2 separate regions of the Homo sapiens genome follow, and region 1 is linked to region 2. The links come from fine-mapping of genetic effects on gene expression. A gene starts in region 2. The other region holds a variant in brackets. All regions are shown on one strand. Distances are between the middles of the regions.

Region 1 (5,379 bases), 98 kb after region 2:
ACCAAGTCCCAGTATTCAGCAGAAGAAATAGAATGAGGAACCTTACAAGGACATAGTTTCCTCCCCTCAGGATGGCTAGCCACTGAAGAAGGAAAAATACTTTTGCCTGCAGCTAACCAATGGAAATTACTTAAAACCCTTCACCAAACCTTTCACTTAGGCATTGATAGCACCCATCAGATGGCCAAATCATTATTTACTGGACCAGGCCTTTTCAAAACTATCAAGCAGATAGTAAGGGCCTGTGAAATGTGCCAAAGAAATAACCCCCTGCCTTATCACCAAGCTCCTTCAGGAGAACAAAGAACAGGCCATTACCCAGGAGAAGACTGGCAACTAGATTTTACCCACATGCGCAAATCTCAGGGATTTCAGTATCTACTAGTCTGGGTACATACTTTCACTGGTTGGGCAGAGGCCTTCCCTTGTAGGACAGAAAAGGCCCAAGAGGTAATAAAGGCACTAATTCATGAAATAATTCCCAGATTTGGACTTCCCCAAGGCTTACAGAGTGACAGTGACAAAGGCCTTGCTTTCAAGGCTGCAGTAATCCAGGGAATATCCCAGGCGTTAGGCATACAATATCACTTACACTGCACCTGGAGGCCACAATCCTCAGGAAAAGTCGAGAAAATGAATGAAACACTCAAATGACATCTAAAAAAGCTAACCCAAGAAACCCACCTCACATGGCCTGCTCTGTTGCCTATAGCCTTACTAAGAATCTGAAACTCTCCCCAAAAAGCGGGACTTAGCTTAGTGGTTAAAGTGGCTGGAGTGGAGTCTTGGATACATCACACTCGAGTCAAACCCTGGATACTGCCAAAGGAACCTGAAAATCCAGGAGACAACACTAGCTATTCCTGTGAACCTCTAGAGGATCTGCACCTGCTCTTCAAGTGACAACTGTGAAGAAAGTAACTAGAATCGTAGATCCCCATGGCCCTCCTTTGTCATGTTTTTCTTTTTACTGTTCTCTTACCCTGTTTCACTCTCATTGCACCCGCTCTATGCCGCTGTACTACCAGCAGCTCCCCTTACCAAGAGCTTCTATGGAGAATGCAGCTTCCCAGAAATATTGATGCCCCATCATATAGGAGTTTTTCTAAAGGAAACCCCAATTTCACCGCCCACACCCATATGCCCCTGCACTTCAGGCCATACTCTTCAATCCCTGTATCTTTAACCTCCTTGTTAAGTTTGTCTCTTCAAGAATCGAAGCTATAAACCTACAAACAGTTCTTCAAATGGAGCCCCAGATGCAGTACATGACTAAGATCTATCGCAGACCCCTGGACCAGCCTGCTAGCCCATTCTCCAATGTTGATGACATTGAAGGCACCCCTCCCGAGGAAATCTCAACTGCACGGCCCCTACTATGCCCCAATTCAGCAGGAAGCAGTTAGAGCGGTCATCGGCCAACCTCCCGAACAGCATTTGGGTTTTCCTGTTGAGGGGGGCACTGAGAGACAGGACTAGCTGGATTTCCTAGGCTGACTAAGAATTCCTAAGCCTAGCTGGGGAAGGTGACCACACCCCCTACCTTTAAACACGGGGCTTATAACTCAGCTCACACCCAACCAATCAGGTAGTTAAGAGGGCTCACTAAAATACAAATAAGGCTAAAAGCAGGAGGTAAAGAAATAGTTAAATCATATATCGCCTGAGAGCACAGGGGGAGGGACAATGATCGGGATATAAACCCAGGCATTCAAGCAGGGAGCGGCAACCTCCTTTGGGTCCCCTCCCATTGTATGGGAGCTCTGTTTTCATTTTATTAAATCTTGCAACTGCAAAAAAAAAAAAAAAAAAAAGTAAGTATGTTCAGGCCAAGTACAGGGGCTCATATCTATAATCCCAGCACTTTGGAAGGCTGAGGTGGGAGGATTGCTTGGAGTTTGAGATCAGCCTGGGCAACATAGCGAGACACTGTCTCTACAAAAAATAAAAAATTAGCCAGGTGTGGTGGTGCATGCCTGTAGTCCGGCTACTTGGGAGGCTGAGGTGGGAGGATCACTTGAGCCTGGGTGATTGAGGCTGCAGTGAGTGGTGATCTTACCACTGCACTCCAGCCTGGGTGACAAAGACCCTTTCACAAATAAATAAACAAATAAATAAATAAATAAATAAATAAATAAATA[T/AATAT]TTTCCTTAGCGTAAATATCTTAAAGTCAGAGTAGTTGTAAAAGAATGTAAATGATTCCATTACTCTTGATGTATAATAGAAAGAATCATGTAAATATGGGCTGCTAACAGCTGCATGCAAGAATCTAACTCTTCCCAACTGTGCTTGCAATGGATATTAATCTCTTAATTTTTGTTAGGTATATTTGCTTACTTTTTAATAGGCATATAATAATATTTCTCTCTTTTTAATTTTCATTCATTTATTAGGCAATTCAAATAGTTTTCAATAAAATTTTTGCTTGTTTATTGCTGTATTTGCTGCAAATATATTTCCAATATGTTTGCCTTTTAAATTTTAATTTTGATAGTTAACTTCACAGAAATTTGAAACTTTCATAGGGTCAAATTTGTTTGTCTTTTTAGTTATAATGTCTCCTATTTCTTGATTTTTAAAATGTTATCACATATTTTGGGTCATTTGTTTAATGGCCAGAATACTATTTGATTTTTGGTACAAAAGTTTTAAATTGTTAAGAAACTATAAAAGTCCCAGAAGTGTCTAAAAGGCTCTGAAGGAAATGTAGTTGGAGCTACATAGAAAACTGTACTGATTGCTCTGTGACTTACCATATCTAAACTATGCTGTAGCAGTTCACAATTTAATGCCCAGTGTTAACTGAATTTATTTATAGTTCAAAGACCCTGAATCCTTTCCTGCAGCACAGATCTGGCCCAAGACAATAACATCTCCAGTTTTACAGGCTTCAAGCTGTTTTACAGTGTGGAACATTGGAAATGAACTGGCACATACACACCCAACACTGTTATACTGTTATTTGTTTAAATTTAAAACGTGGCATGTGGCAATGTTGGGATGTTATCAAGGGAGGTTGGCTGTGTGAATGCTTACATAGCTCGTCAGTTGGCATTTACCTTCTGCAGATTCTACACTATAGCAGGTCAGCTTTTCAGCTTTGCAGCTTCAAATGTTATAAATTTTAAGGATACTTGGTGTGAATCTGGTTCTCTGGGGGCAAACTCCCATTAACCAACATGACAAGAGACTGATGTATAAATCAAAGTACCAGTATCATTTTGCAATAAGAACCTTGAGCATCCTTTTGACTGAGATATTTCAGGCAATATGATGAGCCTATTATCTCTCTCAGCAGCTTTCCTAGGGGAGTCAAAATTATACTCAGGAGGCTCCCTGATGAATACAGAATTGGAGCAAAGTGAAGGAGTTGTCTAATTTAGTTAATAAATCAGTGTGTTTCAGAGGCCATATATATTTATGTCCACTGATTATAGTGCTAGGCTCTATAGGCCACCCTGCCTCCTCCCTTCATTGAGTTTGTGTGGGTACTAGCCCGCCCGGGTCTTCAAGTTTACGTATTCTGTGTGTGAGGTTGCCTGTGCTTTCAAGTTCAAACAACTTTTCTCCTAACAGAATTCAACAGAGTTGACCAAGTTCCTGCTTACCTGATTGCAGTCACAATTTAAGTCCTTTCCAGTGGTGATCCTTGGGTCCCCTTTACTGCATCTTGGGTGTTTTCAAACACATTTCAACAGTCTTGGTGAGACCAGACCATGAAGAACTAGAATCATAGATCCCCTATCTGATATCACAAATAGACTTGCTGATTTAGCTCTTTGAGGACAAGCTTTTCTTCATGTTCTTGGTTGGGAGTTCCCTCCATGCTACCGCTTTTGGCTCTCTGCATATGGTGCACGGAAAACGAAGGGTTTCCATCCCTGTGTCCAAGTCCAAATACCCTTAATTCCTGGCATCTCCTGTTTGCCCCTTCTTGGGAATGTTCCTTAAGATAAATATCTTAAGATGCTTGGACTACACCTCTCTTTTTTGGCAAATGTTAAACCACACCAATTTGGGGCTTGCTTCTTCCCCTGCAAAAGTCCCACATGAACCCTCCTGAGCTGAAGCAAAGGACCCAGACCTGTCTGTGGAGCTACTTGAGCCCCAAAATGCTGCATCCCAACTGTATCCCTGGTCTGTCCTGGTCTCCCTCTTGGGCCACCCTGGTTGCTCCTGTCGTGTGGGCCTGGCTCCAGGCTGCACACCTGGCTCATCAATGCCGAACAAGCTCTGCCAGCTGCTGCATGATTGTTGACACTCGGCGTGCACTGGCTGTTTGACCACATCCCGGAACACTCTTTGCTGAAACCGACAAAGTAAAATATTCCTGAACATATAATGTAGTACTCTGGGGGGAAAATTAAACATTTTAGTGGTATATTAAAAATAGTAAATAAAATTTCAGAAAATTTCAGAATATATCACATTGCCTAGTGCAATGACCTAATAGACCAGGGAGCTAGCAAACAAGAAACCAGTATTGCAAAAGTGAAATGATTTTCATTGTAAACATATAAAATGCAGTTACTGTGAACAAATATAATCCCCAAACAATAACACTTTTGTTATCAGAACTCTGTTAAGTAATCAAGAACTTATAAAACAATGATTTTTTTGAAAATGCCCCCTTTGGAGAATACAAGCATGCCCTGTATCGGCATAGCACTTTTAAACACTTTCATGTCTCTGATCTTATTATAGCCTTAGGATGCATGTGAAACTCATGTTTTCGTAGACAAAGAGGTTCCCTTTATAAGAAGCACATCTGGGACTCTAATTTCAGGACTTTCCCTCCATGTGGTGGCCACTCCTGGAGAAATGATGCTTGTGCGTGACTAATAAAAGGCAGGCTTCCCACAGACACACTTTTCTTGCTAAGAGCCTATTCCTTCAGGCTGTTGTATTTTGTTAACAGTGACAATGACAAGCACTAACAGGATGCTCCCGCTGTGATTGAGAATGTGTAAGTGCTTTTCTGTGTGTGTGCTAGGCATTTGCTTGTTTGCTCTCAGGCCCAATGTCTGCCCTTTCTCTCTGCTCTGTGTCTCTGGATACACTGCCCAGGCTCCTGTATCTTCTGACTTCTACCTCCTCTGGGCAAGGAGAGGCATTGGTAGGAGACTACAGGGTTGGGGGAAAAGAGAAGCCTGGGCCTTTCTCTCCTTCCCATCTTCCTTGTCTGGTATCTCCACATCCAGCAGCAGTTAATTCTCCGTGGCATTAGCTCCCCTGCCCCACCATGCTCCAGCACCTACTGGGTTGCCTGGCTTGACTCCCCGGCTCTACAAAACAGCCATCTTCCTTTGTCCTTCCAGCAGCCTATCTCTAGATGGCCTCTGTTCTGTTTGGCAAAGCTCTTCTATCCCCTGTGGAACTAAA
Region 2 (5,379 bases):
GATTGTGCCGGAAAGCACTCTAAGAATAGAGACTAGCAGTGCCCAGGAAAAAAACACCAAAATCAGTCACTGGGACTCAATGGCAGAAGCAAGGTGGGGAATAGCGGGAAAGAAGGCGAGAAATGTAGATAGGGGCTAAAATATAGAGTTCACTGAAGGTCAAACTAAAAATTGTGAGCAAACAGGAGTAGCCTTTTGACATTCATGCTTCAGGATGACTAAACTGACAGTAAACTACACTGGCTGAACTGGAGTAGGGAGAAGTACTGCTGCAGACTATAACAGTGTCAAGAATTCTGTTCCTGAACTAGGTCGTATCAGCAGCAATGACAAGAAAGAAGTGTCTTCCCTTTGAATTGCGTGGGGACTGCTTTTGGATAAGAGCAAATTCCAAGAGAACAGAGCATTAACTTGTTAGGATTTGTAGCCCCACTACTCCATGCACAATACTTTATTTATCCACAGTACAGCCTCAAATAAAAAACTGAAAAAAGGCAACCAGCAAAGTCTGATTTGAATTTTCACCACTAATGAGATAGCCAAATGCCACAGTCACAAGCTTCTATTTCTCAAACCCACTCATATTACAGTTAATGTGGCATTCCTCTCCAATCTTGTTTTTACAGCCTAAATGAAATTTTGCCAGAAGACTTTAGAATTCTCCTTCTTCCAAATACACCACAGCATTTTTCTTTTAAAGTTTACAAATCCAATTTCCACACACACACACACGCACGCACGCATCAGAAAACCTTGCTGAAAACTCATGTATCTAGCAGAAATTTTTTCTTTCAGGCAGCAATAAATATGCTTTTTTTTTTTTTTTTTTTTTTTTTTTGCAAACTCCACCTTCCGGGCTCAAGTGATCCTCCCGCCTCAGCCTCCCAAGTGGCTGGGATTACAGGCGCCTGCCACGACGCCCGGCTAACTTTTGTACTTTTAGTAGAGACGGGGTTTCACCACGTTGGCCAAGCAGGTCTCGAACTCCTGATCTCAGGTGATCCCCCACCTCGGCCTCCGAAAGTGCTGGGATTACAGGTGTGAGCCACCGCGTCCGGCCAACATGCTTCTTTAGTTACTTATAGAACCTGCCACATCATTAGTTCAACTACAAACTGCTGCTTACATGACCGAAGTTGTGCAAAGGGTCCAAAGTTGTGCAAGAGTAACCACTGAAATCAGACTCTGGTATATTAATAGTTGCAACATCTAAACAATCTTTATGTTTATTATTAGATTCAAAGTAATGCCAAATCACAGGTATTAAAAATATCTACGAAGAGTCTGTTTACTTTTCTGTGAAATATACTAGGACGTCATTTTAAGTGAGAATAACTGAATTTCTTTCAGCTCATGGACATGAGCTCACCTGAAAATTAGCAGTTGTGACACCGGACTTGACATATCTAAAACATCAGCGTCCTCAACATACACATACCTAAGTACACACCCAGAGCACTGAACGACTTTACATTACTATATAACCCCAGTTCACACGTGGCAAAAGTCCACAGAACTCGTTCATGCTTTCCTAACCCCGAAAGGGATTCTCCAGCCGTCAAGTAATGAGATGTGACTTATTCTGACGTGAGAGTTGAAGGTGTTAAAAAAGCATATTTTATATATATGTATATATATAAAATACATATTTTAAAGGTTTCCTTTTCTCTTTCTCGGCTGCCTGTCCCACGCCAAAAAGCGCCTTGCCCAGGCCTTGATAGATGCGTGCTGGTGGAGGAAGGTTGGACTGGTCAGGAACCAAGACCCGGGCCCCAACACCTTCTGCTCCCCTAGGTTTCCCTCCTTCTTTTTCCTGGGGCCGCGAAGAGACCTAACGCAAGGGGCCCTGGGGGTGGGGTGCAGTCATGTGAGTCGGGCCCCGGCGGCCCTGCGCTAGGCCTCCCCTCCTGTCACACACTTCCTGAATCGGGCGTCGCAAACGGCTGCCACGGCCCTCAGCTGCAAGACTGGCCGGGTCGGGGGCCGCAGACCGGGCCTGGCCAGGCCGCGGCCGCTCGCAGTGCCCACGTCACCAGCTCCAGCACTGCGGAAATGGAGCGGCGCGGCCAGGAGGGAGGCGCCGGGTGGAGTCCGCGTCCCCGCCACCGCCAGACGCCGTTTGCCCCTCAGCCCGGGTCCGGAGGCCGCCGACACCCGCCCGGCCGCGCCCGGGGCCCTCACCTGTGTCGCCGATTATGATGTACTTGAAGAGATAGGCGTACGCCATGGCCGCGGCCGCTCAGTGCCAGGGCACACGGCTCCTCCTCCCGCTGCTGCTCCTCCTCCGCGCCCCAACCCCGGTGCCGCTCAGCCTCGAAACGCCAGGCGCCGCCCGCCGCCGCCGCTGCTGCTGTCAGCCGCCGGGAGTGAGGGGCTGTGAGGAAGCCGGACGAACTGACACCCGCAGAGCCGAGGGAGACAGCGCCCGACCGAGCCCAGCCGAACAATAACAGCCGCCGCGGCGCCTCCGCCCCGCCTCCGCGCCGACCCGGAAGTTCTGCGGCCGCCGGCGCCGCCGGAGGAAAGGGGAGGAGCCCCGCACGCTGGCCCAGCCCTGCACGCTGGCCGCGCCCCGCCAGCCGGAGCCCCGCCCCGCCCCGCCCCGCGCCTGCCTTGCCCGGTCCGCCCTGTCTTCCAGCAGGGCGGGGCCCGGCTCCGGTTGTTCCGCCACGTTTGAGCGGGCGAGCCCGGCGGCCGGGAGACGCCAGGGAACGGGGCTGGTGGGGGTACAAAGGCTCGGTTCCGTCGCCTTCAGCCCTGCGGTGGGGGCACGGGGCAAGTGAGGGGACGGCAGAGGCGGCGTTCGGTGTGAGGCTGCGCCCTGGGCTCCTGAAAATGTGTGTGAAAATGTGGGAGGCACACGGCGAGGGGGTGGGGGTGGCCTGGTATTTCTGTGTTTGGCATCGGGGCTTGAAGGTGAAAATGGCAGTATTTATAAATTGGAAACCGTAAATCTGGGACTGCAAAGTAAATCATGGTATGCACGCACAGTGGAGTACTACGTTGCTCTCACCTGAGGTCAGGAGTTCGAGACCAGCCTGGCCAACATGGCGAAACCGCGTCTCTACTAAAAATACATTAGCCGGGCGTGGTGGTGCTCGCCTGTAATCCCAGCTACTCGGAGTCTAAGGCAGGAGAATCACTTGAACCTGGGAGGTGGAGGTTGTAGTGAGCCGAGATTGAACCACGGCACTCCAGACTGGGCGACAGAGCGGGACTCCGTCTCAAAATAATAATAGTAAATAAAAAATAAATAAAGTCTCTGAACCTGTCCTGGTTCTGAGGGCTGCTCTAAAAAAAAAAAAAAAAAAAAAGCCTGACTTAGGTTAAGCAAAACCGAGATGATCTGTTTATGTGTGTGTATATAACATGCACCATATGTAATATATGAATTGTATATAATTTTTATGTGTAACAAATAGTGGGAAAACATTTACATACCCATATATGCATAATCAATCTGAAAGGAAAGCTAACTGGTATTAAGAGAAAGGAGGGAATGGGATTGGGGGGAAAATGTACTTTTCCCTGAATTTTTTTGTGCAGTTTGACATTTTTTGCAGTGTTCATGAGTTACCTATTAGGAAATACTGTTAAAGGAAAAAACAAAATGACTGTGCATTCAAAGAATAGTTATTGAATACTATGTTTCATGTACCGCCAGGCACAGCAACTGGAGGCCCTGTATGTTCTATGTTCTGTTTTTCTACTTTGCTTTTTCAGTCATCCAGCCCAAAATGTCACCACTCTGTTCAAAAAGACCACAGGTTATGGAAGAGGAGGTGGAGAATAGGGTGTCAGGAAAGGTTACTTAGAGATTATGATTTCTGAGCCAGGAATATGAATTATGTATAGAGTTTGTCGAAAGAACAACAGTTTGGGGAGGGGAACCAAAGTTTATGGACAAGGAACAGAATGTGCAAAATTCCTGGATCTGTTCAGGGAATTTGAAGTTGCATAAGGAAGCTAATTGACTAACTCATATCCTCATAACCCATAACCTCATATTGAAGGAGAATCATTGCTGGGGAAAAGCGATTGGGATTTAGTGGCCCTCGTTCCTGTTGCCTAATACTCTTCTCTTTGGGGCCTCTCATTATGTAATTAGTACTGACACCATCATGCTGGGTTGCTAACATGCTTTGGATGGCCTTGCCAAATATGAACTCACAAGGTTTTTCTGGAATATTTGGAGGGGATTTTACTAAAGGGTCAGAGATGGCACGGAAGAATTTGACATGAAAATTTGACATGAAAAGCTACCTGGAATCGCAAAATTTGGTTCATTCACCTTTAGTTTGAGGAAGGGGAGGTCCCTGCCCAAGGCCTCCAGTTTTCAGATGTCATTTTGTCCCTCCCACTTGAGTGCCTTCACCCAAGTCTTCCTTGGTGATGGAGAAACTCAAGTCTTCACTCTCACAAGATAGAGGGATGTGGCCTTCCTTCACCAGCACAACTCTATTAGGATGTTATACAAATGCCTGGCATCCTAGGAGTCAGGAGTATTCCTACACTGTTAGAGGAGGAGAGTACCTGGAGAGGTCTCTTGTGCCAGGTTATGTAGGGCCTTGTATGTTATGTCACCATGCATTTAGAACTTTACTTAGTAGACAAAGGAAATTGTGACAGGAAATGGTCAGAACTGGGTATGTAACAAAAATCATAGAAATGGATATAAAGCTATAGAGGCAATGTGTTATAAGGAAAATAGGATACCTGGCTTCTGGTCTTGGCTCTACCTGTAACTGATCGGATGAATGTGAGGAATCGTTTGGCCTCTTAAAGCTTCAGAGCACAGGTTGCGATGGCTTGTGCCTGCGGTCCCAGCTACTTGGGAGGCTGAAGAGGGAGGATAGCTTGAGCCAAGCAGTTTGAGGCAGCAGTGAGCTAGGATGGTGCGACTGCACTCCAGCTTGGGCTATAGATTGAGACCTTGTGTCTTAATAAATAAAATAATTATTAAAATAAAAATAATTTAAAAAATTATGAGTGGTTCAGTGCACTTGTCTATTAAGTAAAGGAGTTAAGTGTTTCTTAAAAGGGCTATTCCAAGCATGACGTCTTTTAATTTTATGCTTAGCCAGCCTCCAAATCTAAAGCCATCTGTAAAGAAGGTAGTAATCCTCTCGTGAAAATGCAGGGGCCATAGATGTCAAATGCATATTGTTCTGATTGATTGATTGATTGATTGAGAGGAGGTCTTGCTCTGTCATCTAGGCTGGAGTACAGTGACCCAGTCATGGCTTACTGCTGTCTTGACTTCCTGGGCTCAGGTGATTGTCCTGCCTCAGCCTCCTGAGTAGCTGGGATCACAGGCACATGCCACCACGCCTATATCATTTATTATTATTATTATTATTTGGAGAGATGGAGACTCCC

Direction of the effects. Positions count from the first base shown, and alleles are read on the strand shown. Sizes are in standard deviations (SD) of each study's normalised expression.
In carriers of allele T in region 1, the expression in neutrophils of the gene that starts at base 2,448 in region 2 tends to be lower than with AATAT alone (moderate effect, 0.71 SD a copy in BLUEPRINT).

The links. PIP is the estimated chance that this variant, and not a neighbour inherited with it, causes the effect.
Region 1: its variant is the best candidate, but not a certain one, in a credible set for the expression of RAB2A in neutrophils (BLUEPRINT, PIP 0.60).

Annotation. Positions count from the first base shown.
Region 1 is chr8:60,415,830-60,421,208 of GRCh38, reverse strand. No RefSeq gene overlaps it. Among named protein-coding and RNA genes, the nearest start is that of LINC01301, 4.7 kb to the right of the region's middle. The variant T/AATAT (reference allele first, on the strand shown) is at 2,142.
Region 2 is chr8:60,514,056-60,519,434 of GRCh38, reverse strand. It overlaps RAB2A (RAB2A, member RAS oncogene family), which reads right to left and starts at 2,448. Exons shown (of 8, transcript NM_002865.3): 1 at 2,182-2,448. The coding sequence starts at 2,227. LOC124901949 (a long non-coding RNA gene) reads right to left here. Exons shown (of 3, transcript XR_007060922.1): 3 at 2,637-5,379. RefSeq lists enhancers at 1,015-1,204, 2,440-3,300 and a silencer at 1,995-2,864.